Linked DNA regions of Homo sapiens: region 1 is linked to region 2. A link means that fine-mapping ties the variant in region 2 to the expression of a gene that starts in the linked region. Tissue or cell type: whole blood. Region 2 holds a variant in brackets; the other region holds the start of a gene. All regions are shown on one strand. Distances are between the middles of the regions.

Region 1 (5,000 bases), 110 kb before region 2:
TGAGCCACCGCGCCCGGCCCTTTTCCTGCCTCCTAAACAAGTGGCCAGGAATTCTCCTCCTGCACCGGGTCCCCAGATTGTGTGGCAAGCCCTGCAGATGGCACAGGGGACTGGTTCTTCCTCGTGGAAAGCCAGGCCCGGACACCTCTCGGGCATCGCCTGTTGGGGTGACCCTCCCACACCCAGCCTGGAACCCTAGCCAGCTCAGCCTCCGTCCGCTGAGAAATCAAGGTGACCTTGTGGCTCAGCCCTCAGGGGGCACTCACCACACAAGAGTTCCCTTTCAAGACCCCCTGTTCGGGGCTGGGGCCCCCAGGAACGGTTGGGGCACCTTCCTGGGGCCCTGTTTTTCCCCAGGAGCGGGGCCTGGGAGCTGAGGGCGTCTCATCTCCCCACAGGCATCTGCTGCTGCTCCTGGCTGCCACTCACCCCTGTGAGATGCTGAGGGCAGGATACCTGTCTGTGCGGGGCGTGGGAAAAAGGGAGAAAGCCTGGCAGAGGGTTGGGGGCTAAGAAGCAAAGGGCGTGGAAGGGCCACCGTGCACTTTTGAAGTCTCTACTTGCCAGTGGCCACCCCACCTCTCCCTGCCCTCATCCAAGGACGGACAGGCCTGGCAGGTGGACCGGAGCTGTGGGGCAGAAGCATCCCAGGCCTGGCCTCAGAGGAGGGAGGCCATGGTGAAAGTGGAGGCTGTCTGCATCCACCTCCCCAGCCTTTGTCACCGGGACCTCAGCCTGACCCCAGGCCCACCCCAGGCTGCTCACCGAGGTGGGTACCCTGCCCACCGCCAGCTCAGATGCGGTGTGTGGACTCCCTTCTCTCTGGGGGTGAGCGGGAGTTCCCTCCCCTCCACATCAGGAGCTGGGGGAGAGCTGGAGGGCCCTGGGATCCCCTTGACCCTGGTCATCAGCCCCAGCCCTGACAGGCCCTGCGTGTGCCATGTGTGGCCTGGGTTTGGAGCTCAGCACCCTGCGGGAATTCTATTAAATCTCCGATTTTATCTGAAAACTTCACCCACATGTTGCATTGCTCTGTGAGGCGTCTGTGTGTGTCCAGGCAGCAGTAACAACGCTACTAATGCTGGCGGCCATCACAGGAAGCCAGTCCGAACGTCCCCCAAGGGCCTGTTTCACCCTCATGACACCAGGCGTGGCAGAGACGAGGAGCAGAGGCCTGGACCTCTCAGGGTCTCAGCAGGGGGAGGCCGGCCTGTCACGAGTGTTTGATGACCATGGAGAGGAGGTGGTGGAGGTAAGCGTGGCTGCTTCCAGGGGAAGGGCGGGCAGTGCTGGGGGAGGGGTTCTGTATTGATTAAGCACGTACTGTGTGCTAGGTCCTCTGTGGGCTTCATTTAATTTATTGCCACAGCCACGGGAGGGAGGGGTGGTTAGCGCTATATTTCAGATGAGGAAACGAGGCTCCGGTGAAGACACTTGTCTAGTCCTCTGGCTGTGGAAGGTGGGAAAGGGATGTCAACCTGGGCTCGGGAGAGATAAGGAAGCTGAGGCCTAGAGCCTTGTCAGGCCTGGAGCTGCTGTCCTCCCGCTGGGGCAGCACCGCCTGCCTTCATTTAGAGCAGCAGATCCTACAGCACCCGGGTCCTCACCTATCAAAGGCAGACACCATTCCTGACCACGTGATGGCCTGGACGAGACCAGTGTCTGGGTGTCTGGGTGTCTGGGTGTCTGGATGGGAACTGGGAGGGCCCGGCCAGGCCCGGCACATGGTGACTCTGCCTGCCCTTTGCAGCTGAGAGCTGGCCTCTCCTAGACCTCAATGTCCACTGACACCCAGTGCCCCTGCAACCTTCTCTTCCTGCCCCACGAAGGTGGCACTCTCCTGGGGGCCGCTCCAGCCCTCTGCCTGGGGAGCAAGCGGAGGGGCCTGGGACCCCACCTGTGTTCCTGTCTCTATCCCTCCTCAGCTGTCACCAGCTTTAATTACCCCGGCTCCATCCGCCCCGGCCCCTGCGCAGCTGGAGAGCCCCTTGGGCGGGCGCAGGGCCCCTCGCCTGGGCACGCAGCATTCCTGCATTCCTCCCCGGGGCCCACCGACCTGTCCTGCCGGTTGTGGGCAGCTTCCGGGTGCGGGGAGCCCGGCGTGTGTTTGGGGGGGTGCGCAGCTGCTGGATGGGGAGCCTGGAGAGAGCCCGGCTGTGCCCCGGGACTCCCAGCTGCGTTGCCCACATCCCTCTGCCACCCCGCATCACGACCGGAGCCTGGCAAGAAGTCAGTGATTCATCACTCGGGCCCTGGGGGCTGCCTGGAGGGGCTGGGGTGCTTCTAACAGCAGGAAAGGGAAGGCAAGAGAGAACCTTCCACAGTTGGGAGCAGCAAAGCGGCCCAGGAAGCCCCCCAACAGGATGGGACCATCTAAGGTTCCAGCCACCCCAACCCCCCGGAGCAGGGCCCCCAGCCTAGTGGTATGTGGATAAGCCCTGCCTGGGGTGCACCTTCTCGGGGAGACCCTCTGCTCTTTGGGCTACTGTCCTGGGGAGCCTCCCCCTTCCTGGGGCTGGGTGGACCAGCTGCGGAATGGCAGCTCCCCCTGGAGGGGCTGGGGAAGAAGTGGGGCGTGCTGTCCACCAGCTCCTCCCTACCCCGAGGCGCCCCAGATGATCTGCCTCCAGCTCCAAACAGGAGTAGTGGCCACCTGTGAGTTTCTCTGAGGCCCAAGTGGTCACTGCCGGAGCTGCCTGTGTCCCTGTGTCCGGACAGGCTCCTCTCCACCTCTGTGTTTGGGCAGCTCTCCCCTTGTGTCTGGAATTTTTAGAAAACGGAAAAAGTGTAGACAAAAGCAGGCTTTTTATCTCGCTGAATGCTCCAACACCCTCCCTAGTTACACCACGGTAGTGGAAGATTCAGAGGAAGTTTCCTCCTGGTGGCCGTGATTACCATCTGCAGTTCTTGTTCGGGGACATTGCAAAGGTCACATTGTCCGTCCAGCCCCGCCCCGCCCTGACGTTGCTCCCGGAGTGGGGACGGGCTCTGAACCACCCCAGCTCTCAGGGGCCCCGCCCTGGGTAACACACGTCTGCGGTGTTACCCACGACTGCCTGGGACCTGGCCAAGGGCTCCACACACCAAGACCAAGGTGAGGGGAGGTGGTGGGTGGGGACCAGCCCTGCCTCTCTTGGAGACCCCGAGGGTATGGCGCCAGGCCAGCCTGGAGTCGGGTGTGGGGCGGTTAGTGTGAGCATTACGTCTTCTTTTCCCTAAAGTGGCTGAAAATGTCCCCGGGGCCAGTCCCTCAGGGCACCCTGCTGGACTCAATGCAGCAGAAAGAGTTGGGGTGTTTGGCCGGGTGCGGTGGCTCACGTCTGTCATCCCAGCACTTTGGGAGGCTGAGGCGGGCGGATCACCTGAGGTCAGGAGTTGGAGACCAGCCTGGTCAACATGGCGAAACCCCATCTCTACTAAAAATACAAACATTAGCTGGGTGTGGTGGCAGATGCCGGTAATCCCAGCTACTCCGGAGGCTGAAGCAGGAGAATCACTTGAACCCAGGTGGCGGAGGTTGCAGTGAGCTGAGATCTCACCATTGCATTCCAGCCTGGGTAACAAAGTGCGACTCCGTCTCAAAAAAAAAAAAAAAAAAGAGAAAGGGTTGGAGTGTCCCATCCTCAGGGCAGGGGTCAGAGCTGCATCCCTGGGGTGCCCTGAGCTTGGGGGTCATGATAACCTTCACCCTGCATGCAGCCCAGGCCCACACCTAGAAGTCTTGTGGCCTTGAGCACACTGCGTTGCCTCTCTGAGCCTCGGTTTCTCCATCTATAAAATGGAGAGGGTAACAGTGAGAGATTGCTATTGGCTGGCTTCGTTCATTGGGCCCTAAATCAAACAGTGGCTTAAATACCAGAGGCTTGCTCAATGGGTGGTGGGCAGGCAGCCGGGCTGGGGCGGCGCCCCCCCCATCTCCACGGTGTCCCCACCTCTACAGTGCCTCCCCCTCTCCATGGTGCCCCCCCACCACGGCCTCCATCCCTGGGGTCCAGGTTTCATTTGTTCCTCAGCAAATGCTACAGAGCTTTTGTAGGCCCACCAGCAGGAGTGGGGTTGCCAGGCAGTGAGCTAGGGGGTGCTGGGAGGGCCCGAGGGGAGGCAGGGCGCATCCTGCAGGGTGCCTGTGAGGACCTGGGCTGAGGGTGGGTTTGAGCAGAGGCTGACATGGTCTCACCCTCTGGCTGCTGGGTGGGAACAGACCATGGGGAGGCCAGGACGGAAGTGAGGAGAACATGACGATCCCGGAGAGAGATAACCCGGATCGTGGTGGAGACACAGGAAGTGGGGAGAAGTGGTCCAAGCTGTGGATATCTGAACATGGACTCAACAGAATTTCCCGATAGATTGGATGAGGGGTGTGACTGAAAGGGAGAAGTCAAGGATGGTTCCATAGCAACCGCAGGAGCTCCAGCCATTGCATCTGCATTCCAGGCAGCAGGAAGGAGAAAGGAGGGAAGGTAAAAGACTACTGAAAAGCTTTCAGCTGGGGCTGGGCATGGAGGCTCACACCTGTAATCCCAACACTTTGGGAAGCCGAGGCTGGTGGATCACTTGAGCCCAGGAGTCTGAGACCAGCCTGGCCAACATGGCAAAACCCTGTCGCTACAAAAAATACAAGAATTAGCCATGTGCACCTGTGGTCCCAGGTATGATCTCACCACTGTACCTCAGCCTGGGTGACAGAGTGAGACCCTGATTCAGAGAAGGGGGAGGGGAAGAGGAAGGGGAAGGGGAAGGGGGACGGAAGGGGGAAGGGAAGGGGAAGGAGAAAGGGAAAGTGAAGGGGGAGGGGAAGGAGAAAGGGAAGGGGAAGGGGAAGGGGGAGGGGGAGGGGAAGAGGAGTGGAAGGGGAAGGGGGAGAAGGGGAAGGGGAAGGGGGAAGAGAAAGGGAAGGAGGAGGGGGAGGGGGAGGGTCTTTTGGCAAGCCATGAAGTCGGCCCAGCCCTTCTGCTTATATTGCTCAGGTTGTAGTCACAGGACCATGCCCGGTGCTCGTG
Region 2 (6,131 bases):
ATTTCCATTTAATAATTGTTTTAATTTAATTTTTTTTTTTTTTGAGACAGAGTCTCGCTCTGTCGCCCAGGCTGGAGTGCAGTGGCGCGATCTCTGCTCGCTGCAAGCTCTGCCTCCCGGGTTCACACCATTCTCCTGCCTCAGCCTCCCGAGTAGCTGGGACTACAGGTGCCCGCCACCACGCCTGGCTAATTTTTTGTATTTTTAGTAGAGACGGGGTTTCACCGTGTTAGCCAGGATGTTCTCGATCTCCTGACCTCGTGATCCGCCCGCCTCCGCCTCCCAAAGTGCTGGGATTACAGGCGTGAGCCACCACCCCCGGCCTGTTTTAAAATATTGAGACCGAGCAGACCCCATGTGGTGTGGTTCTATTTACATAAAACACCAAGCAAAGGCAAGTTTATCACAGGAGGTCGAAGGCTGGTGTAGGGGTGGCAGAGAGGGCTCCTCCAGGGGCAGTGGAACATTCCAGAACTGCACTGTGCTGATGGTCACACAACTCTAGATTTGCTAAAAATCATTGACTTGTACACTGAAAATGGGTAGATTTTATAGTATGGAAATTGTACCTCAGTAAAACTGTTAATTAAAACAACATTAAAGGCAAAGAAGATACAGAACTGAAAAAAGCCAACAACACCCAAAGCTCCAGGGGCTGTGGGCGGAGCCTCCTGTGATGATGACTGTTGGGGGCTGTGCCCCTGCCGCTTGCCCCTGGGGAGCTGGAGGGGCTGTGGGCGGAGCCTCCTGTGACCATGACAGTCGTTTCTTGTCAGGACAGTCGCGGGGGTACCTCCCTGCCTGGACTTTCGGAGCCTGCTCCTGGCGGAGCCGTCACCTACCCTACCGCCCAGTTAGGGCTAGGGAGACCAGGCCTGTAGACGCGGTGGGTGGCACGAGGGAAGGGGGACCAGAAGCCCGCAACCCCTTGAAGCCCCCCAGTTCTGCCCGGGGCAGACTGCTCCCGAGCTAGGGCTCACACGTTCTGGGTTCTCTGTTAGTGCCTTTGCTGAGAGAATCCACACATGGTCCCGAGAGCCAAGGTGAAGCATTTTTTTTTTTGCTTAATCAGTTTTACTTAGTATAATTTGTATACAATAGAAGGTGCCCATTGTAAGTGTGCAGTTCCATGAGATTCCACCAGGGTGTATAGTGCTGTCTGTGGACACAGCAGACCAAGATAAGGAAACGGCCCAGCACCACCAGGCTTCCCTCGAGCTCCTTCCCCGCCCAGATGCCAGCAGCCACCAGTCTGTTCCCTCATAGCCCTGCCTGTTCCGACCACCCTCTCTGTGGAGCCACGGCCTGTGGTCTGCACTGGCCTGAGTCCCGGGCCTGTTGCCTGTGGGTAGGGTCCCGCCATCCAGTATTCACGCTGTAGCCAGGTCATGGGCATTTGAACTCTTCCCACTTCCTGGCAATTGTAAATAAGGCCACACAGGCCTGCGTGGGTAGGCGTTTCCTCTCCCCTGGGCACCTTCCCAGGAAGAAGGTTTTGGGTTTTAGTGGAGCTGGTCCAGGCGGCTGGTCCTGCCATGTGAAAATGGTCCAGGTGGGCTGGTCCTGCCTTGTGAAAAGGGCTACTTGAGTGCAGCCGCCGGCTTCTCTCTTCCCCGGCTCGACCTTCCACCAGCAGCCAGCTGGGTCCTGCCGGGGCGCTGGTCCTGTCTTGGCCCTGAGTCCTGCTCTCCGGGCAGGTTTATCCACCAGGTGAACCAGGCCACTGTCACCATCCAGCGCTGGTACCGGCACCAGGTGCAGCGGCGCGGAGCAGGAGCTGCCCGCCTGGAGCACTTGCTTCAGGCCAAGCGGGAGGTCAGTGTGGGCGTCTCAGTCACTCCATGCTCCCCCGGGGGGTCTGGCCCAGAATCCCAGGGGTTTGAGTTTCTGGGACAGGTGGAATCAAAGCCTAGGATTGCTCGTGGGCCCCGTCTCTGGGTGCAGCATCCTTCTTGACCCTGGGTCCCCGCGGACAGTCAGGGTGGTCCTCACTGGCGGTCCTCAGGGCCTGGGTGTCAGGAAACGCCTGCTGGGTCCATCCCAGGCTGGAGAGTCTCAGGAGGACGTTCTGTGGGGGCAGAGCTGTCTCCCCCACGCCAGAACTGTTGGCCACCTGCGACGTAGGGCTCATCCTCTGTAGAGCAGAGAAATGGCAGGTTCAAGGTCCTGGTGGGGTTTCACTTTCCCTGCTGGCCCTGAGATTCCACGAACTCTAGGGGACTCCAGGGCGTTGTGGGGAAACCTCTGGTCTGGGTCTGGATTCCGTCTTCCAGATGTAAACGCCACATGGCACCGGCTTCTTTGGCAGGAGCAGCGGCAGCGGTCAGGCGAGGGGACCCTCTTGGACCTGCACCAGCAGAAAGAGGCAGCCAGGAGGAAGGCCCGGGAGGAGAAGGCACGCCAAGCCAGGCGAGCAGCCATTCAGGTGCTGACCGCGCAGGGACCACTGAGCAGCACCGTGGCCCAGGCCTGACCGTGCGGGGCTGCTGCTGGGGCTCCCTGGGCCCCGGGACACTTAGCCTCAGGGCAGCTTGGCTGTGGAGCCTGGGGTCGTCCTCTCCCAGGGACAGTGCTCAGCGATGCTCCCACTGCAGGAGCTGCAACAGAAACGAGCCCTGAGAGCCCAGAAGGCGAGCACTGCCGAGCGTGGGCCACCTGAGAATCCCAGGGAGACCAGAGTGCCAGGAATGCGGCAGCCTGCTCAGGAGCTGTCCCCCACACCAGGCGGCACTGCCCACCAGGCCCTCAAGGCCAACAATACTGGTGAGAGTGGCTCCACGCCCGCCCTGCTCTGGGGGGTGGACTGCAGCCAGGAAGGAAGTGCAGCCCTTGTGGACCTCCTCTCGGCCTCCTGTGCTGCTGCCCATGTTGGCGGCCCCAGTCCTCGGAGTTAGGGGCCTTGGCCCCCAGCTGACCTGACGAGGGTGCCGAGACCTTGACAATCAAATGGTCCTGGACGTAGGGATCCCTACAGAGTAGAAGGCCCGGAAGGGAGGGGTGGCACTCATCCTCCACAGCTCCACACCCAGAAGGCCGTGGCTCCCCAGCGGCTCCTCTGCTTCTGGGGTCGCCTCCGCCTCCCCCATGCCTGGCTCCTTCCCGGGGGTGCCTCCAGAGTTGCTGCCCGCCCCGGGATGCTCCCTGTGGAATGGTGCTGTGTTCTGCTGTGCAGGTGGTGGCCTCCCTGCTGCAGGCCCCGGAGACCGCTGCCTGCCCACCTCCGACTCATCCC[C/T]AGAACCACAGCAGCCTCCAGAGGACAGGACGCAGGTCTGAGCACAGCTGTCCTTCACTCCATCATGGTTTTTGGCTTTAAGGGCCATGTCTGTGCCAGGGGTGTCCTGAGCTGAGCTTCTCCCAGCCCCTCCTCTGCTCTAGGGGCCACTTAAGCTCAGAGAGGCCACCCAGGAGGTGTCTTCTTGCTCTGATGCATGGTGCTGGCTGCCTCTTGGGGAGCCTTTGCTGGGGTGGATCCAGTTGGGTTTTTGCAGATGTCCTGGGGTGGGGGGCCTTGCATCCTCATCCACAAAAGAGGAGCTTCCGGCTCTGAGGGGTGACCTGACAGCCAAGGCTCCCAGGCTGCTCAATGGTGGGGCCAGGTGGCTGCACTCCTGTTTTCCTGGAGTGGGGCACTGGGAGGAGTCCCCTGGTGGCTGGAGCTGCTCTGGGTTTGAGCAGCTGCAGAGACCGGGTGGGAAGGTCTGAGCCCTGGCCTCACCTTCCTGGGGCTGAATGTCGGGACTGGGGAGCTCCCGCGGCGCCTTTGGGGCTCTGCGGTTGGCCTCCTATGTGGGGGCTGCTCTCAGCTACCAGCAGCCTTGCTGCATCTGTCTCCCTGCTCTTTTGCAGGACGTTCTTGCCCAGGATGCAGCTGGGGACAACCTGGAGATGATGGCCCCGAGCAGGGGGAGCGCCAAGTCCAGGGGGCCACTGGAGGAGCTGCTGCACACACTGCAGCTGCTGGAGAAGGAGCCGGACGTGCTGCCCCGCCCCAGGACCCATCACAGGGGCAGATACGCCTGGGCCAGCGAGGTGACCACGGTGTGCGCCCGCCCTGCACAGTCTGTCCACCCACGCCATTCACACAGAGCATGCGGTGGCTGTGGGGGTTGGGAAAATGGGGATGCCACAGGCTCCTCCTGGCTTTAGTCACAACCCTCCCTCCCAGAGCCCAGCCTCAGCTGCCACCTCTGCCTTTGGGGAACCCAAGTCCTCAGGCTGCCCTGACAGCCCCCGATGCTGGGCTCCTGTCCCACAGGAGGATGACGCCAGCTCTCTGACAGCTGACAACTTGGAGAAATTTGGAAAACTCAGTGCGTTCCCCGAACCTCCTGAGGATGGGACGCTGCTATCGGAGGCCAAGCTACAAAGCATCATGAGCTTCTTGGACGAGATGGAGAAGTCTGGGCAGGACCAGCTGGACTCCCAGCAGGAGGTGGCCCCTCACCAGCCCGCACCCGGCCCCCAGTGGGAGGAGGCCCCTCACGAGCCTGCACCTGGCCCTCGGGGGAGGAGGCCCCTCACCAGCCCGCACCTGGCCCCCAGGGGGAGGAGGTCTCTCGCCAGCCCCCACCCGGCCCCCAGCAGGAGGTGGTCCCTCACCATGTACCCACCTAGTTATGCAGCACCCCCCACGGGTCTCTCAGGGTGGAGGTGGCAGGGCCCGCATTCCCCATACTGCCCCCACCTACCCGCTGCCCCGAGCTGCCTCCACGAGCCCATATGTGTGGATAGTTCAGCCCTCTGGAGCCCTGCTGTCCTCTGGGTTGGTTTGTCCTGGGTGAACACTAGCGGCCAGGCTAAATGGAGCAGTGACGTGAACTTTATTGTCACAGGGCAGGAAGCTGGGCAGCATAGAACTTTTTAAATGGTTTGTTTTTTATTCCTGAGGCCACGGCCCCCATTTCCTGTACTGAGCAATGAAAACGACCTCTGCTGGGCCGCCTGCCACCTGCCCTCCGGCTTCCCACGGGCTCCCGTGTGCAGCAGCCCCTCTGTCCCCAGAGGGCAGGGCCGCAGGGGCATCGTGTCAGGTCCTTGGCTGCCCCCCGTCCTCTGCCGCTTCCGCCTGACGCTCGGCTGTGTCTGCAGGGGTGGGTGCCGGAGGCGGGGCCGGGGCCCCTGGAGCTGGGGTCCGAGGTGAGCACGTCTGTGATGCGGCTGAAGCTGGAGGTGGAGGAGAAGAAGCAGGCCATGCTGCTGCTGCAGAGAGCGCTGGTAACGCTGCTGGCACTGCTAATCCCGGGCCCTGCTAGCCTCCTACCTGCTGAGGCCAGGCCCACCGGTCCTAGCGCTTCCCTCCTCTGCCCACACCCTGCAGGCGCAGCAGCGAGACCTCACGGCCCGGCGGGTCAAGGAGACAGAGAAGGCGCTGAGCCGGCAGCTGCAGCGGCAGAGGGAGCACTACGAGGCCACCATCCAGCGGCACTTGGCCTTCATTGACCAGGTGAGCGGCCCGGGGAGCGCAGAGGCCCGGACCCAGCGCGTGGCTCATGGAGACTTCCAGAGCCAGGGGCTTCCCACTGCCAGGGAGCTTCTTCCTCTGTTGGGTGTCACACGGGTGTCCGCTGGACGCATTCCAAGCCTTTCCCATGCCATTCCCAGCCATGCATGCCCTGGAGAGGGCACTCCTGTCTTTATCCAGAGCCGCCCCGTGTGAGTGTAGTGGGGTGTCCTGCCGGCCCCTCAGCTCAGTCGCAGCCCCGGTTGGCTCCTGTTCTGAAGAGAAGAGACCTAGAGTTGGTCTGGGGTGTGTGAGAATAGGGGCCTCCAGGGCTGCTTGATAGTTGTCACAGGTGTGTCCTGACCTGGGGTCTGGCCTGGGGCCGGCAGTGAGGCTGGTGTGGTCCTGACACCCTTTGGCAGACAGTGAGCCTCCTCCAGGGCTGGGTGATGGCCTCGGCAGAGCTACCCTCATCCCAGGAAGACCCTGACATCACTGCAGGGGGTGGGCTGGGGCTTCTCTGACATTCGCCGGGTCCCCCAGCTGAGGACAGGACGGCGGATGCAGGCCTGGGCCCGTGTTTGCACACGTGCCCCCCCACTGGCCCCAGGGTCCATCCACAAACCTAGGAGGGGCAGCCCCAGGGGAGGGCTGCTGTTAGCCTCCCTCGGAGGCTGGGAGGGTCTCCTCC

What was found. PIP is the estimated chance that this variant, and not a neighbour inherited with it, causes the effect.
Region 1: it holds the start of LINC00482, and the variant in region 2 is fine-mapped to the expression of LINC00482 in whole blood (TOPMed, PIP above 0.99).

Annotation. Positions count from the first base shown.
Region 1 is chr17:81,307,279-81,312,278 of GRCh38, reverse strand. It overlaps LINC00482 (long intergenic non-protein coding RNA 482), which reads left to right and starts at 3,031. Exons shown (of 4, transcript NR_038080.1): 1 at 3,031-3,094; 2 at 4,435-4,649. TMEM105 (TMEM105 long non-coding RNA) reads left to right here. Exons shown (of 3, transcript NR_165247.1): 3 at 1-1,014. RefSeq lists an enhancer at 2,608-2,667.
Region 2 is chr17:81,196,013-81,202,143 of GRCh38, reverse strand. It overlaps CEP131 (centrosomal protein 131), which reads left to right. Exons shown (of 26, transcript NM_014984.4): 8 at 1,698-1,815; 9 at 2,309-2,425; 10 at 2,595-2,763; 11 at 3,173-3,267; 12 at 3,847-4,029; 13 at 4,256-4,432; 14 at 5,089-5,214; 15 at 5,318-5,443. Among named protein-coding and RNA genes, the nearest start is that of CEP131, 24 kb to the left of the region's middle. The variant C/T (reference allele first, on the strand shown) is at 3,233.